2 linked regions of the Homo sapiens genome follow. The main gene of each other region encodes a partner of the protein of the gene in region 2 in a complex. Links are inferred from orthologs where the notes say so. Each region holds a gene or a part of one and is shown on either strand. Other genes may lie near its edges.

Region 1 (7,740 bases), on a different chromosome or scaffold from region 2:
TTCAGCACAGTGCCTGCCACGTTGCAGGTGTTTGATAAATGTGAAGAAGTCCTTTCTCCTCACGGAGGTTATGGGATTTGCCACCATAGGAGGTGGTGGTGGGAATACACACTTAGACACATGTCCCAGAGAACACTAAATTGCTTAAAGGTGCAAGAAAGCAATGAGGGACGGAGAACAAGGAGTCCCCAAGGAGGGAATGTGGTCCTGTTCTCAGGATTAGGGATGGGAGAGCTCATGCAAAGTGATGGCAGAACCTCACATTGGTCACGCATTCCAGGTCTTTGTTGTCATAGAAGTTACACTTGTTTTGAGAGCAGCAGTGGGTCTGGAGAGAAGACCAAAGCCTGTAGGAGATGAGAGTGAAAAGCGCATCAGCTGCTGGTGGGAAGAGGAAGGCAGAGGAGGCGAGCATACCCCCCACCTCCCACCAACCTCCCTGACCCTAGGAGACTGGGAAAGATATCACAGGGTGTGGTCTGTATGTCATCTAAGCTAGCTCCCAAAGAGGTGCCCCAGGGTCATACAGACAGGCCTCCTTAGTTCCTTTAAAATCTGATTTCTGGCTGGGCGCTGTAGCTCATGCCTGTAATCCCAGCACTTTGGGAAGATCATTTGAGGCCAGGAGTTCAAGTCCAGCCTGGCCAACACAGCAAAACCCCATCTCTACTAAAAATACAAAAAATTAGGCAGGTGTGGTGGTACGCGCCTGTAGTCCCAGCTGCCTGGGAGTCTGAGGCATGAGAATTGCTTGAACCTGGGAGGTGGAGGTTGCAGTGAGCTAAGATCGTGCCACTGCACTCCAGCCTGGGTGACAAAGTAAGAATCTGTCTCAAAAAAAAAAAAAAGAAAGAAAGAAAAACTGATCTCTATTCTTTGGCCTTTCAGCACTAGGTTCTTTCTGCAACCCACCTGCTGCTCATAAACCTGGGCTGGGCCTGTCATATCATGTGCCTGGAGGACAGACCTGAGATCATGTGACCTGCCTCACCCCAGAGATTGCCCAACTGCCCTATCCCATACCTGTTCCCCAGAAGGCCATGGTAGTAGGCAAAGTAGACCAGGGAGTTGTCATTCTGCTCATAGGAGGAGAGTCCATTGCCCACAGCCAGCCCCTGTGAAACACCCAGGGTGCTCAGCTCATGTGGAGGGCAAAAAGGAAGAGCCTCCCTCACCCTACCACCCAGACCTTCAGCAATCCGGAAGCTGAAACCCAGGGTGGTTTATGTAGGCCGGTGGGTATGAGAGGCCACTCAATGCAAAACACAGAGCTGGCAGCCTGACAGGTGAGTTTCCTGTGTGGGAGGCACACAGACAGACCTAGGGCAGCCGGTGGTGGGGAGGTTATGCAGGAAGCTGGGTTGGATGGGGACATTGACCAGTCAGTCTGACCTTGCTAACTGTAAGGCCACAGCCTCAAGCTACCTCCCTTCCCTCCTGCAGCTACCCTGCACCTGAAGGTTCATGCTGGGATCCTGCATGACCAGCACGGCCAGGGTGGGGATGTAGATGCCAGCATAGCTCTCCCCGGTCAGGAAAAGTTTGTTGTTCTTGTACTCCGGAAAGAGGCGGAAGAAATCTTGAAGGGCCTCAAAATTGCTCTGGGCGACCTGGGGATGGCAGAGCAAGACAGAGGGAATCAGGAAGCTTTGGTATTTGAACTGGAAAGAACTTCAGAGATAATGACATTAACCCACCCTATTTGTGCAAGAGGAAGTGACTGGCCACCATACCACAATAGCATATGACAGAGCGAAAAGTAGACTCCAAGGCCATGCTCTCTCTCCCAGCATCATGCCATGGATGGAGGACCGGGGAGCCTGGGGCAGATGGGCAGGCACCAGACTCACCTCAGTGTCATTAGTTGCATAAAACTTGTCATCGGAGTAGGAGAAGCCCACCCCAGCTGGGGACTCCAGGTATAACACATTGGCAATCTAGAGGGGAGGGAAAAATTAGCTAAATGCCACCCCATCCAAGTGCCCAGACACACCCACAGCTCCAGCTATACCAGATTCCAAGAATAGGGGTTGTACTCCAGGGTGACACCATCTGGCTGGACCTGAGGAGGAAAGAGATGGCTGAGTAAGTCCCAAGGGCCAGCTGGGTGGAGGGAAAGGGCCACCATGAGAGGCACTTTACATGTGGGTAAAACCTCTGAGAGGTACAGGCAGCAAAGCCAATGGCATAGAGGAAAATCCCGAGGCTTAGAAGGAAGGAAACTTTTTGGAAAATCACAAAGCCCCTCTCTCGCTTTCCCCAGCCTTTTACTTTGGGAACTGTGCTTTCCCCCTGCTGTCCACTCACCAGGAAGGGGCCATGCTCTGTGAGGAGCCCATCTAGTGAGCTGCAGCCGGGACCCCCATTGAGCCAAAGCACCACAGGGCTGTTCTCGGGATCCTTCTGGGACTCCACAAACCTGGGAGGGGGGTCAGGGCAGGGTTGGCGCAGTTGGAGGGGCCCTTTCCAGCCCTCCCGGCTCCCAGGCATCCTCAGGGGTCTGCAGAACTACCCCCCATCCCTCATCCGTCATCTCTTCTCCCAATCCCGCCCAGAAGGCAGGGCGGCAGACCAGTAGTGGAGGTGCTTGGAGCCGGAGCCTTTGAGGTAGCCGGAGTACTGGCGGAAAGACGGCTGCTTGGCCAGCCCGGGGAGGCGCTGGATCTCGTCCTGGTCGGGGGCTGCCTCGCCTCGGGACGCCCAGGACACTAGCAGCAGCAGCAGCAGCAGCAGCAGGAACAGCGGCGGCGGCGCGGCTCGGATCATCTACGGGAGGCAGCAGAGGGGCTGTTGACTCGCTCCTCAGCGCTTCCGTGCAGCAGCCCCCGGGGAGTTGCTGGCGGCGCCTCCGCGAGGGAAGCCCCGGCCCCAGCGCCAGCTCCCACCCGCGAGCCTCCTCTGCCGCGCACCGATCCCGGGCTCGGGGATCCCCTCCAGCCTCCGGTGCCAGCTCACCTCTGCTCCCCCGCGTCCTTGCTCTCCAGGAGGCGCCCGGGGACTGGAAGTCATGTGTACGAGTCACGTGAACTCCGGCGCCACGTGACAGTCTTCCTCCCGCCCCTTCTTTGGTCCCTACGGACCTGGGGGGCGGTGGCGGTCAATGCCGGGTCAAGGTCCGCGGGCCTCGCAGATCGTAGCCCGGGCGCACGCGATCAGATGATCCTGTTGTGGACGGCTAAGTTGTAGGCGGGATGGCTGAGAAAGCGGCGCTAGGACCCCCGGGCAGAGGCTCGGGGAAGGGAGTCAGGGGGGAAATGCCTTACAAGGTCGCCTTGCGGTCACCATCATTGCCCGCCGCCCAAAATAGCCCCCGGCGCCAGCTGGCCTGCCCTATGGCCGAGAGATGGCTGCTGCCTCCGAGCCCGTGGATTCGGGTGCACTCTGGGGACTCGAGCGCCCGGAGCCCCCTCCCACCCGCTTCCATCGGGTGCACGGTGCCAACATCCGCGTGGACCCCTCTGGGACGCGGGCCACACGCGTGGAGAGCTTCGCCCACGGCGTGTGCTTCAGCCGCGAGCCGCTGGCCCCGGGCCAGGTCTTCCTGGTCGAGATCGAGGAGAAAGAGCTGGGCTGGTGCGGACATCTGCGTCTCGGTCTGACCGCGCTGGACCCCGCCAGTCTGGCCCCCGTTCCCGAGTTTTCTCTGCCCGATCTGGTCAACCTGGGCCACACCTGGGTCTTCGCCATCACGCGCCACCACAACCGCGTGCCCCGGGAGGGCCGCCCGGAGGCGGAGGCAGCGGCCCCCAGCCGACCTCCAACCCTCCTCGTGGAACCATATCTGCGCATTGAGCAGTTTCGCATTCCCCGGGACCGCCTGGTGGGCCGCAGCCGGCCAGGGCTCTACAGCCATCTCTTGGACCAGCTCTATGAGCTGAACGTGCTGCCTCCGACCGCGCGCCGTAGCCGCCTGGGTGTCCTCTTTTGCCCGCGCCCCGATGGCACGGCCGACATGCACATCATCATCAACGGCGAGGACATGGGCCCGAGCGCCCGGGGACTGCCAGCTGCGCAGCCCCTCTACGCGGTGGTGGACGTGTTTGCTTCCACAAAGAGCGTGCGCCTTGTCCAGCTCGAGTATGGCTGTAGGTATCCCTGGGCAGCGACCCCTCCTGGCTCAGTGTGGGGACTGGAATCTACTAGGGCTCCGTAGCCCATGTGCTAGGCCTTCGTCTGTCCGGCACTAGTTTAAGAGTGGGAGAATCTAGCTTCAAATTGCACCTCTGCTTGTGATCTTGCACAAGCCTCTACATGGTTTTGGGCCTTGGTACCTATCTTGGTTGATTGATTAAGATGCCCTACAAGTTCCCTTTTAGTTTTGATAGTGTTTCCTGTATTCACCTAGGGCAGGGATTCTAAACCAATTTTAGATATTAGGGGCCTCTTTGAGAATTGTTTGCCCTTTTCTTAGAAACATGCTTGGCCGGGCACAGTGGCTCACACCTGTAATCCCAGCACTTTGGGAGGGGGAGGCAGGCAGATCACTTGAGGCCAGGAGTTCGAGACCAGCCTGGCCAACATGGTGAAAGCCTGTCTCTACTAAAAATACAAAAAGTAGCTGGGTGTGGTGGCATGTGCCAATAATCCCAGCTATTCAGAAGGCTGAGGCAGGAGAGTCACTTGAACCCGAGAGGTGGAGGTTGCAATGAGCCGAGATCTCACCAGTGCACTCCAGCCTAGGCAACAGAGCAAGACTCTGAAAAAAAAAAGAAAGAGAGAGAGAGAGGAAGAGAGAGAAAGCAAGCAAGCAAGCAAGCTAGCTAGCTCAAGCCTGGGCAACAAAGTGAGACCCCATCTGTACAAAAAATTAAATAATTATCTGGGCATGGTGGTGCATGCCTGTAGTCCCAGCTATTTGGGAGGCTAAGGCAGGAGGATCGCTTGAGCCCAAGAATTGAAGGCTGCAGTTCACTGAGCACTGCACTTCAGCCTGGGTGACAGAGCAAGACCCTCTCTCTTTAAATAAAAAAAAAAAAAGAAAGAAAAGAAAGAAACATGCTCATAGACTTGGGCATATTGGCTATTGGCTTCGAGGCATAACAAACCCCAGACTGAGAGCTTCTTAATGCTGAGTATGATTCATTATAGCCCTGGTAAGCATTGCAGTTATACCTCTCATCACATTTCATGAACTCAATGCACCAGAACCCTCTTTGTGCCAGGCCTGTGCTGGAGGCTTCAGTTGCACAGGCAAATCAGACACTACCCCTGCCCCCAGAAGCTGCTAAGTGAATGGGGAAGGGATTGTGCTAAGTGTTATGATATAAACAGGGCTGCAGCTTTGTGGCAGCTCTCAGGAAGAGGTGCTTCTCTCAGCCCCATGAAGCAGGCTGGGCCCAGAGAGCAGTAAGGACTTGCCCACATTTAATGACAAAGTGGGGACCATGACCTAGACCTTCTGGATCTTGGCCTCAGACCCACCCTCCAGTTCAGTTTGCCTTTCACAGTCTTCTTCCCACAGTGCCATCCCTGCAGACTCTGTGCCGCCTAGTGATACAAAGGAGCATGGTGCACCGGCTGGCCATTGATGGGCTCCACCTGCCCAAAGAACTTAAGGATTTCTGCAAGTATGAGTGAAGACCCACAGTGCACCAGAGCACAGCTGCATCCTGGAGCCCCAGACCTGTGGCTGGCTGGTCCGAAGTTGGCCACATTGCTGCCAGCCAAGACCAGAAATAAACAGCCGATGCTGACATCTTGATCACTGGAAGGTCTCCTTGCCCCTACAGCCTATGAGAGTCACTTCGTTTAGAATCACTGCAGGTCAGCAGGTCGGAGCAAAAGAGCAGGGGTCCCTAGGCTGGCTGCTTGTTAGAGTCATCTTAGGATATGTAAAGAGTGCTGGTGTCCCACATCCCATCCCTAGGGATTCGTATTTGATTTGTTGGGAAATTAGGCCTAGACATTGTGTTTTGTAAAAGCTTCTCAAGAGATTCTCATGTACAGCCAGGGTTGAGAAGTATGTCCCTAGAAAAAAGGTTCCAACTTTGTCATATATTATAATCACTTGAGGAATTTTGAAAAATACCAATACCTGGCCTGTAATCCCAGCACTTTGGGAGGCCGAGGTGGGCAGATCACTTGAGGTCAGGAGTTTGAGACCAGCCTGGCCAACATGGTGAAACCCTGTCTCTACTAAAAATACAAAAGTTAGCCAGGTGTGGTGGCAGGTTCCTGTAGTCCCAGCTACTCGGGAGGCTGAGGCAGGAGAATTGCATGAACCCAGGAGGCAGAGGTTGCAGTGAGCTGAGGTCTTGCTCCTGCACTCCAGCCTTCCAGTCATGGCGACAAAGTGAGACTCTGTCTCAAAAAAAGAAAAAGAAAAATACCAATACTGGGTCTGACCCGAAGTCTTACTCTACAAGGCACGAAGCACTTGGCTCCTGTGTTTCCATCTCTGGTCATCTGCTTCCATACAAATGATCTCATTTCATCCTCAAAACTCCTAATGAGGTAGTGGGCAGTCATCAGACACACTTTACAGATAAGGATATCAAGGAACAAAACTATCTGGGTGACTCGTTCAAGGTTAGGGCAAGAACCTAGAACACCCAGCTCCTGGTCTGGTGCTCTTTTAACCTCATCCTATTGTCATGTCCAGGTTCTAGAATGAATAGGTCAACGCTGTAAAGTGGATTCCAAGTGTGAAGGGGAGGGTCTATGAGGTGACATTCTAGAAGGGTGAAGAAGGGAGGACAGGCGGCAGATCACTATTCCCTCACAAACCGGGGCTTTGGGGAAGCCATGTCCTACTTCAGGACTCCACAAACTCATCCAGGTCCTCTGCCTTCCGGCCAAGGTGAGCGGGGGGCACCTGCAATTGGAGGGAGTGCGGCAGCTTCCCCTGAGAAGTTGCTTTCTGGCTCTGGGGAGGTGGCGGTTCTGCTGGGCATTTGGGGGCTGGCCCTAGAATCAATTCTTTTAGAAGAAAAGCCATTCCAAACATCCTTGCCAATCAATAACTACCCGCTTGCTCACTATTCATTAATTCAACAAACGCTTCTCCATCACCTACTCCGTGTTGGGGACTGGGAGTGTGGATATGAGTAACACCTAGTTCCCAACCTCTAGACAGTCCGCTGGGGCTGGTCTTAGTTACGCCCCCAAGCTCTGCTCCCATGCCCTGCCCCTCAGGGCCCCCTCCTCAAAGAACTGAGAATAACGTTCCATTTCATTCCTGTCTCTGCAGGTGGGGCTGCTTCTCCAGGCTTGTCCCTTGGCCTCTGTAGTCCTGTAGAGCCAGTGGTGGTGGCCTCTGGTGGAACAGGCCCACTGAGCCAGAAAGCTGAGCAGGTGGCACCTGCTGCCCAGGCCTGGGGCCCAGCCCTGGCAATGCCACAAGCCAGGGGCTGCCCTGGGGGGACTAGCTGGGAGACACTACGGAAGGAATACAGCCGAAACTGCCACAAATTCCCGCATGTGAGGCAGCTGGAGAGCTTGGGCTGGGACAATGGCTACTCCAGAAGCAGAGCCCCTGACCTGGGTGGCCCCAGCAGGCCTAGGCCCCTGATGCTGTGTGGGCTGTCACCACGGGTTCTACCGGTACCCTCTGAGGCAGTGGGGAAGGAGGCCAGCTCCCAGCCTGATATCTGCATCCTCACCCTCGCCATGATGATCGCTGGCATCCCCACCGTGCCCGTCCCAGGAGTTCGGGAAGAGGACCTGATCTGGGCCGCTCAAGCTTTCATGATGGCCCATCCGGAGCCAGAGGGTGCTGTGGAGGGGGCGCGGTGGGAGCAG
Region 2 (7,411 bases):
GCGATCATGGACACGAAGACAGTGACAGCAGCCAGGGTGGCCTTCGCGCCTAGGGACAGCTGCCTGAAGATGGCCATTTTCTCTGCTCCTAGTAGGCTCCCCCACCAGTTCTGTGCTGGTGGACTCTGGAAATGAGTTCCTTAGAAAGGACAGTGGCCAAGGAGAGGTTTCCAGGTCAACTCCGCCTGCAACCAGGAACCAGCATCAGCTTTGTGGGATATTAGAGTGTCCTTGTACCCATTCAAAACTCAAAGGCCACTTACATCTGCCCAACCCACCTTGAATCCAAGCTACTCAAATACCAGTCAGTTGCTAGCTATACTTTATTATTCAAAAAGAAACTCACAGCATTGTGACATGATGGGCAGTTTTCATTTTCTTACCACATGTTCTATACGTTTAAAGTTTCTCTACAGTAAGCATGTACTTGTTTTATAAAAACATTCCAAATCAGCGGTATTCAAAGTGTGGTCTGGAGAGAGCCCTTCAGGGGTCCAATTAGTCAAAACTATTTTTATTATAATTCCAAGCCATTACTGCCTTTTCCATTCTCACTCTGTCCTGAGGGGGTGGAGTCTTCCAGAGGCTATGTGACATGTGATATGGCAACAGATTTAATGCAGAAATAAACATGAAAATTTGACTGTCTTCTATTAAGAGACATTGAAAGAGATTTGCAGAAATGTAAAACAGTGCAACTCTTCACCCTAAAATTTGGGGAGAAATACTATTGTTTTTCAAATATATATATTGTTTATTAACGTGTAATGATGTAGTATTTCTTAACAAATAGTTTAAAATATTCTCTAGGGCTGGGCACAGTGGCTGACGCCTATAATTCCAGCACTTTGGGAGGCCGAGGCAGGCAGATTACCTGAGGTCAGGAGTTCAAGACCAGCCTGGCCAACATGGTAAAACCCTGTCTCTACTAAAAATTCAAAAATTAGCCAGGCATGGTGGTGGATGCATGTAATCCCAGCTACTCGGGAGGCTGAGGCAGGAGAATCACTTGAACCTGGGAGGTGGAAGTTGTAGTGAGCCAAGATCGTGCCACTGCACTCCAGCCTGGGCAAAAGAGCGAGACTCTGTCTCAAAAAAAAAAAAAAAAAAAAAAAAAGGAATATTCTCTTAATTTCTAGGACAGCTAAAATTTAGTTAAAATTTGAGAACCGCTGGGTCACGAGGTCAGGAGATCGAGACCATCCTGGCTAACATGGTGAAACCCCGTCTCTACTAAAAATACAAAAAAAGAAAAAAATTAGTCGGGTGTGATGGCGGGCGCCTGTAGTCCCAGCTACTCGGGAGGCTGAGGCAGGAGAATGGCGTGAACCCTAAAGAAATGTAAACAAGGAGATAATGGAAAGCTAGACTGCTGGTATCTTTCTTTAGCTGTGGGCACAGAAGCCCAAGAGGGACACCTAGGCACCTGAAATGAGAATTCCTGGGGTGATGCCAGCCTCCCTGTGTGGGCCTCAGGTATGGCAGCCACAGGGCATCCACCCTGACCCAATGACGCTGCACAAGACTGATGAGCTCACATCAGACAGATTGACCCTGTCCACCTGTTCCTGGTTCATAAATCCTTCTCTCTCTCCCTACCCCCACTCCCAGATACTGGTTAAGATCTGCCTTTCCCCTAGCCCCTTACCCTGCCACTGTTCTCCTGAACTGTGCCCCAGTTCCACCTTCCCCAGTGGTTCTCACAGCTGGCTAGCTCTGACTCCTAAGGTCCTACGGGCCTTCTGGACAAGAAAACTCTGTCTACATACTGGGGTAGGGGAACCACAGACGGGGTGAAGAGGGAGCAGCAAATAATCTGTGCTGACTTTTTCCCAAAATGAAAACATTTTCAGCAGCTGTTTTCCAAATACTTAAGATGTTCAATCTTGGTTGTAGATAAATGTACCACTTTTCTCTGCCCTAGGCACGTTATTGAAAGCGTTATTAAAGGGTGTAACTTACAAGTCAACGGTGTCAAATGCTACCAGCTCTTACTTAAAGCATACTGCAGGCTCAGCCCACCTACACCCTGGAGGAACCAAAGTTGGTCCGCGGAACGTGCAGAGGAGCAGCTTGCAACTACCCACTCTCCTTTCCGCAGGTGTGATGCAAACCTCCCCAGGCAGCGCTTTGGAGCCCCTCAGCCAGTCGCCTCAGCTCGGACGCAGCGAGTGAAGCTGTCCTTCCTCTCCCACCAACTGTGCACGCCCCGCACCTCACCTATTCGCCTCGCCAGCCCTGCCCCGATCAACGATGGCATCCCCCGGCAGCCTGCCTATTCCCCCCCTCAACCTGGACCCCCAAACGCCGAAGGAAAACGGTCCCACAAATACAAAGAAAAACCCAAGCCAAAGGGCAGGCGACGGGGAGTGGTGAGAAAGGAACAAGATGCACGAAGAGGGAGAGCACCCAGAGGGGAAATAACCCAATGTTCCCACTGCAAGGGCCTCTCCTGACCCCATTTTTCTCCTTCCGGAGCGCTCCGCAGAGCACCAACTGGGAAAGCGAGGGCGCCCCAAACCAGAGCCGGAGGCACCCTCTAACCCGCGCAACTTGGAATCCCCTCCCGGAAAGCCAACTTAGGAAATGTTTACACGCACCTCGTCTCAACACCTCGTTACAGATGGGGAAGTGGATCCAAGCGCAAAGGGCGGCCGGAGCGGAACGCACAAGCGACCGAGCTGCCTGGAAGGACGCGCGCCCCGCCCGGCCCGCCCCCGACGGGAAGGCCGGTCCACTGCCTGCGTTCCGCCGGCCGCGAGCCTGCTGGGGGGCACTTCGGGGCTCAGGCTCCCCGCCCTGCGGGACCGCGGGTGGCTGCGACCCCAGCCCGGTTCCCCGCCAGCCTGTCCCCTAGCAATGCCTCCCCGTACCCGGGTCCCGCAGACTTACGCGCAAGCCGCGCGTAGGGCCCAGAAGCAGCAGAACCAGCAACAGAGGGAGGATGCGAACCAGGAACCCCGGCATGACCACCAGCCTCCCGGCTCTGCAGTCGGCGCCCAGGCCGGCCGCTTCGCGTCACTTGACTAAGGACCCACGGCCTGGCACCGCCCCTCGTCGGCCCAGCAGCCAGCCCTCGCGCCTGCTCAGCCCCGCGCCCCGCCCCGCTGTGGCCGAGCCGGGCGGGTGGGGGCGGCTAGGAGGCTGCGCGCCGCCGCGTGACTCCAGGATAGTACTATCTGGGTTTTGCAGGCGTCTTCCCTGGGAAGGGACCCTTTGGAACTGCAGTCCGGAGGGCCTGCTTTCAGCAGCTTGATAACGCGCCTCGGGGATTGGACATGAATCATGGTCTCCCTGTTCCCTGGCTGCCTTGAGAGAGCAGAAGAGGGAAATTGTTAATCATTAAACCTAAACGCCCTAGATGGAATCCGCGTCTCATATACGGGCTCTTTGAATAACTCTAAGCCGGGGGTTAGCAAAATGTGGTCGGTCCCTGGAGCCACTGTATCAACTCACCTGGAACTTGTTAGAATGAAAATCCTGCTCACGCCTGTAATCCCAGCACTTTGGGAGGCCGAGGCGGGCGGATCGCCTGAGGTCAGGAGTTCCAGACCAGCCTGACCAGTATGATGAAACCCCGTCTCTACTAAAAATACAAAAATTAGCCGGGCGTGGTGGCAGGCGCCTGTAATCCCAGCTACTGAGGAGGCTGAGACAGGAGAATCGCTTGAACCCGGGAGGTGGAGGTTGCAGTAAACCGAGATCGAGCCATTGCGCTCCAGCCTGGGCAATAAGAGCGAAATTCCGTATCAAAAAAAAATTTTCTTTTTTAAAATAACCTTAGTTTATGCCTTGGTGTTCCAAAAAGCCTTTTTACATTGTATAACAAAGTAGCCAAAATTCTATTTGTTCACTCCTTTCTCCTTTCCTACCGGACATGTCCTTGAGAGATTGAGAAAGTATCAGAAAGGACATTTCATTGAGAGATTGAGAAAGTATCAGTTACTGGCTTTTCTTAGGTTTTTGTTTTTTGGTTTGGGGGGTTGTTTTTTTGTTTTGTTTTTGTGTTTTTTGAGACAGGGTCTCACTCTGTCACCCAGGCTGGAGTGGGGCGCAATCACGGCTTACTGCAGCTTTGGCCTCCTGGGCTCAAGCAATTCTCCCGTCTCAGCCTACCAAGTGGCTGGGACTACAGGCGTGCGCCACCACACCCGGCTAATTTTTGTATTTTTTGTAGAGACAGGGTCTCACCACGTTTCCCAGGCAGGTCTTGAAGTTCTGGGATCAAGCAATCTACCTGCCTGGAACTCCCAAAATGCTGGAATTACAGACATGAGCCACCGTGCCTGGCTTCTTTTCATGCCTGTAGTACCAATTCCGTGTCCTTGCACTGTGAAGTCCTTTCCAAGCTCTGCAATTCTAGTTCAGTATTAAAGAACAAGGGCTCTGGAGGAAGTACACTTGAGTTGGAATTCCAGCTCTGCCACTTACTGTCTGTGTAACTGTGGGCAAATTACTTAACCTCTCTGAGCTTAGTTTCTTTGTTGGTAAAGCAGGGCTAATAATATCAAATTCACTGGATAATTGGGGAAATTACCAGAGATGATGACGATAAGAAGCTTGGTATATACAGGATGTTAGTGGGACAGTTGATGAAATCAGAATTAGACTTGTAGGTTAGATTAGTACCATGCATCAATGTTAATTTCCTTTTTGGGGGGGTGGGGGGACAGAGTCTCACTCTGTCACCCAGGCTGGAGTGCAGTGGCACAATCTCGGCTCACTGCAACCTCCGCCTCCCAGGTTCAAGTGATTCTCCCACCTCAGCCTCCAAAGTAGCTGGGATTACAGGCACCCACCACTAGGCTTGGCTAATTTTTGTATTTTTAGTAGAGATGGGGTATCACCATGTTAGCCAGGCTGGTCTGGAGCTCTTGACCTCAAGTGATTTGCCCACCTCGGCCTCCCAAAGTGCTGGGATTACAGGCATGAGCCACTGTGCCCGGCCGCATCAATGTTAACTTTCTGATTTTGATAATGGTACACGGTCTAAATATTAAATAATAGTTTTGTATTAGTGTATTGATTTGGGTAACGGTAATGGTAATTTTGGTAATGGTTATATAAAAGAACATCCTTGTTTTTTAGGAAACAAAAGGGCATCATCTTTGCAACTGATTCTCAAACAGTTCACAAAAAAAAATGGAGAGAGAGAGAAAGAGAGAGAGAGAGAGGGAGAGAAATGGTATTCCAGGCATGAAAAGAACGTGAGAAAGAAAAGCAAATGTGGTAAAATGTTAACATTTGGAAAATCAATGAAGGAATTATTTTTACTCTTTTTTTCAACTTTTTGTTTCTAAGCCTGAAATTATTGCAGAACGAAGTTTAAAAACAAAACAAAACAAAAATCCTTAACACATGGCAGATTCAACTTCTTCTACCTTCTTTCCTACTCTGTACACTCAGGGTTATCATATGCAATAGGTATTTTTAACTGAACTGAGGTAGAAAGGGTTTAGAGCAGGAGTTGGCAAACTAAGGGCAGAGGATCAAATCTGGCCTGCTGCCTGTTTTTCTTTTTCTTTTTAAAATTCTTTTTACTAAGAATCGGCACAATTTGCTGCCAGTTTTTCTATGGCCTGCCACCTAAAAATGGTTTTTACATTTTTAAATGAATGAAAAAAAATCAAAAGAATAATATTTTATGACATTTGAAAATGTTGTAAGTTTCCTGTGTCAGTGTCCATAAATAAAGTTTTGTGGGGTTGGTTTTTGTTTTTTTTGTTTTGTTTTGTTTTTTTAGACACAGTCTTGCTCTGTCACCCAGGCTGGAGTGCAGTGGTGCAATCATAGCTCACAGCAGCCTTGAACTCCTGAGCTGAAGCAGTCGTCCCATGTCGGCCTCCTGAGTAGCTAAGTAGCTGGGACTACAGGCGAGTGCCACCATGCCTGAATAATTTTTTTTTTTCTAAAGACAAGATCTTGCCTTGTTGCCAGGGTTGGTCTTGAACTCCTGGCCTCAAGTAATCTGCCCACTTTGGCTGCCAAAGTGCCAAGATTACACATAAATAGTTTTCTTAGAACACAGCCACCTATAATCCTCTGCATATTGCATATGGTTGCTTTCACGCTACAACGGTAGAATGGAGTAGTTGCAACACAGATCTTAGGACCTACAAAACTGAATATATTTATGTTCTAGCCCTTTACAGTATAAGCTTGCCAAAGGAATATAGATTGTAGATTGTTTCTGAGATTTTTAGTATTTGACTATGTTTGTAGTTGAAATGGCAATAGTAGTAATAGCCATTGTTGTGCTGAATGCTTTACCAGTATGTGTCACTATTCCTCCCAATCCGAGCTGCATGCTCTTATCCACATTTCACAGATGAGAAAGCTGAGACCCAGAGGAGTTAAATGACTTGCCAGTAGCCACAGAGCTGGGGAGCAGTAGAGTCTCTAAAGTTACATTGCCTGACGTTAGGGCCTGAGTTATTTTCACAAGGCTATGCTTCTGCTCATAGTGTACTGTTTGGTTCCCATTTAAATGCACAGACAGAGTGTGCTGGATGCAAAGCCCCCTGCATACTGGAGAATATGAAGGGACCATGAGAAGGCTGTCACCCTGCAGGCACTCATCTCTAAACATGGTACATGCTCTAATATAGACTAATACTTCTCAGAGTCTGATCCTTAGACCAGTGCTGTGCAATAAGTACAGAAATTCAGCCTAGGCACTTAGAAACTTGCAGCAATTTGAGAAAGTAAGTCTATCTGTTGAATCTAATAATGAACAAAATCATTACGCATCTATTTTTATTTCATTGTTCTAGTAATGTTTTATTTTTATTTTTTTAGACAGAGTTTCGCTTTTATTGCCCAGGCTGGAGTGCAATGGCACGATCTTGGCTCACTGCAACCTCTGCCTCCTGGATTCAAGCGATTCTCCTGCCTCAGCCTCCTGAGTAGCTGGGATTACAGGCATGTGCCACCATGCCCCGCTACTTTTATATTTTCAGTAGAGATGGGGTTTCTCCATGTTGGTCAGGCTGGTCTCAAACTCCTGACCTCAGGTGATCCACCTGCCTCGGCCTCCCAAAGTGCTGGGATTACAGGCGTGAGCCACCACGCCTGGCCTCTAGTAGTTTTTGTTTGTTTGTTTTTGAGACAGAGTTTCACTTTGTCGCCCAGACTGGAGCGCAGTGGCATGATCTTGGCTCACTGCAACCTCCACCTCCTGGGTTCTCGCAATTAAACCTCGGCCTCCTGAGTAGCTGGGACTACAGGCTCACACCACCATGCCAGGCTGATTTTTTCGTATTTTAGTAGAGATGGGGTTTCACCATGTTGCCCAGGCTGGTCTTGAGCTCCTGAGCTCAGGCAATCCACCCCCCTCAGCCTCCCAAAGTGCTAGGATAACAGGTGTGAGCCACCACACCCGGCCTATTTTTCTAATAATTTATTTTTATTG

Evidence for each region.
Region 1: the proteins of GLB1 (region 2) and CTSA are in contact, whole or in part, in a cryo-EM structure (PDB 7KDV), measured with the Mus musculus proteins. The link is inferred for Homo sapiens from one-to-one orthologs. Residues at the interface, in NP_033882.1 of Mus musculus: Tyr198, Asp199, Arg202, His206, Leu229, Thr233, Leu234, Gln235, Asp236, Leu237, Lys258, Phe259, Glu260; in NP_001033581.1 of Mus musculus: Glu29, Asp31, Ala37, Lys38, Gln39, Pro40, Ser41, Phe42, Arg43, Tyr107.

Annotation. Positions count from the first base shown.
Region 1 is NC_000020.11:45,886,595-45,894,334, reverse strand, and holds the start of CTSA (lysosomal protective protein isoform b preproprotein), read right to left. Parts: upstream 3,001-7,740; 5' UTR 2,956-3,000; exon of another isoform or gene 2,910-2,955; intron 2,767-2,909; coding exon 2,573-2,766; intron 2,420-2,572; coding exon 2,308-2,419; intron 2,063-2,307; coding exon 2,012-2,062; intron 1,938-2,011; coding exon 1,851-1,937; intron 1,611-1,850; coding exon 1,455-1,610; exon of another isoform or gene 1,448-1,454; intron 1,116-1,447; coding exon 1,024-1,115; intron 348-1,023; coding exon 263-347; intron 1-262. Other genes in the region: NEURL2 (neuralized-like protein 2), read left to right, coding at 3,344-4,085, 5,462-5,577; SPATA25 (spermatogenesis-associated protein 25), read left to right, coding at 6,745-6,799, 7,190-7,740. UniProt on the Homo sapiens protein: Protective protein appears to be essential for both the activity of beta-galactosidase and neuraminidase, it associates with these enzymes and exerts a protective function necessary for their stability and activity.
Region 2 is NC_000003.12:33,094,119-33,101,529, forward strand, and holds the start of GLB1 (beta-galactosidase isoform a preproprotein), read right to left. Parts: upstream 3,029-7,411; 5' UTR 2,968-3,028; coding exon 2,893-2,967; exon of another isoform or gene 2,601-2,892; intron 186-2,600; exon of another isoform or gene 78-185; coding exon of another isoform or gene 1-77. Other genes in the region: TMPPE (transmembrane protein with metallophosphoesterase domain), read right to left, coding at 1-77.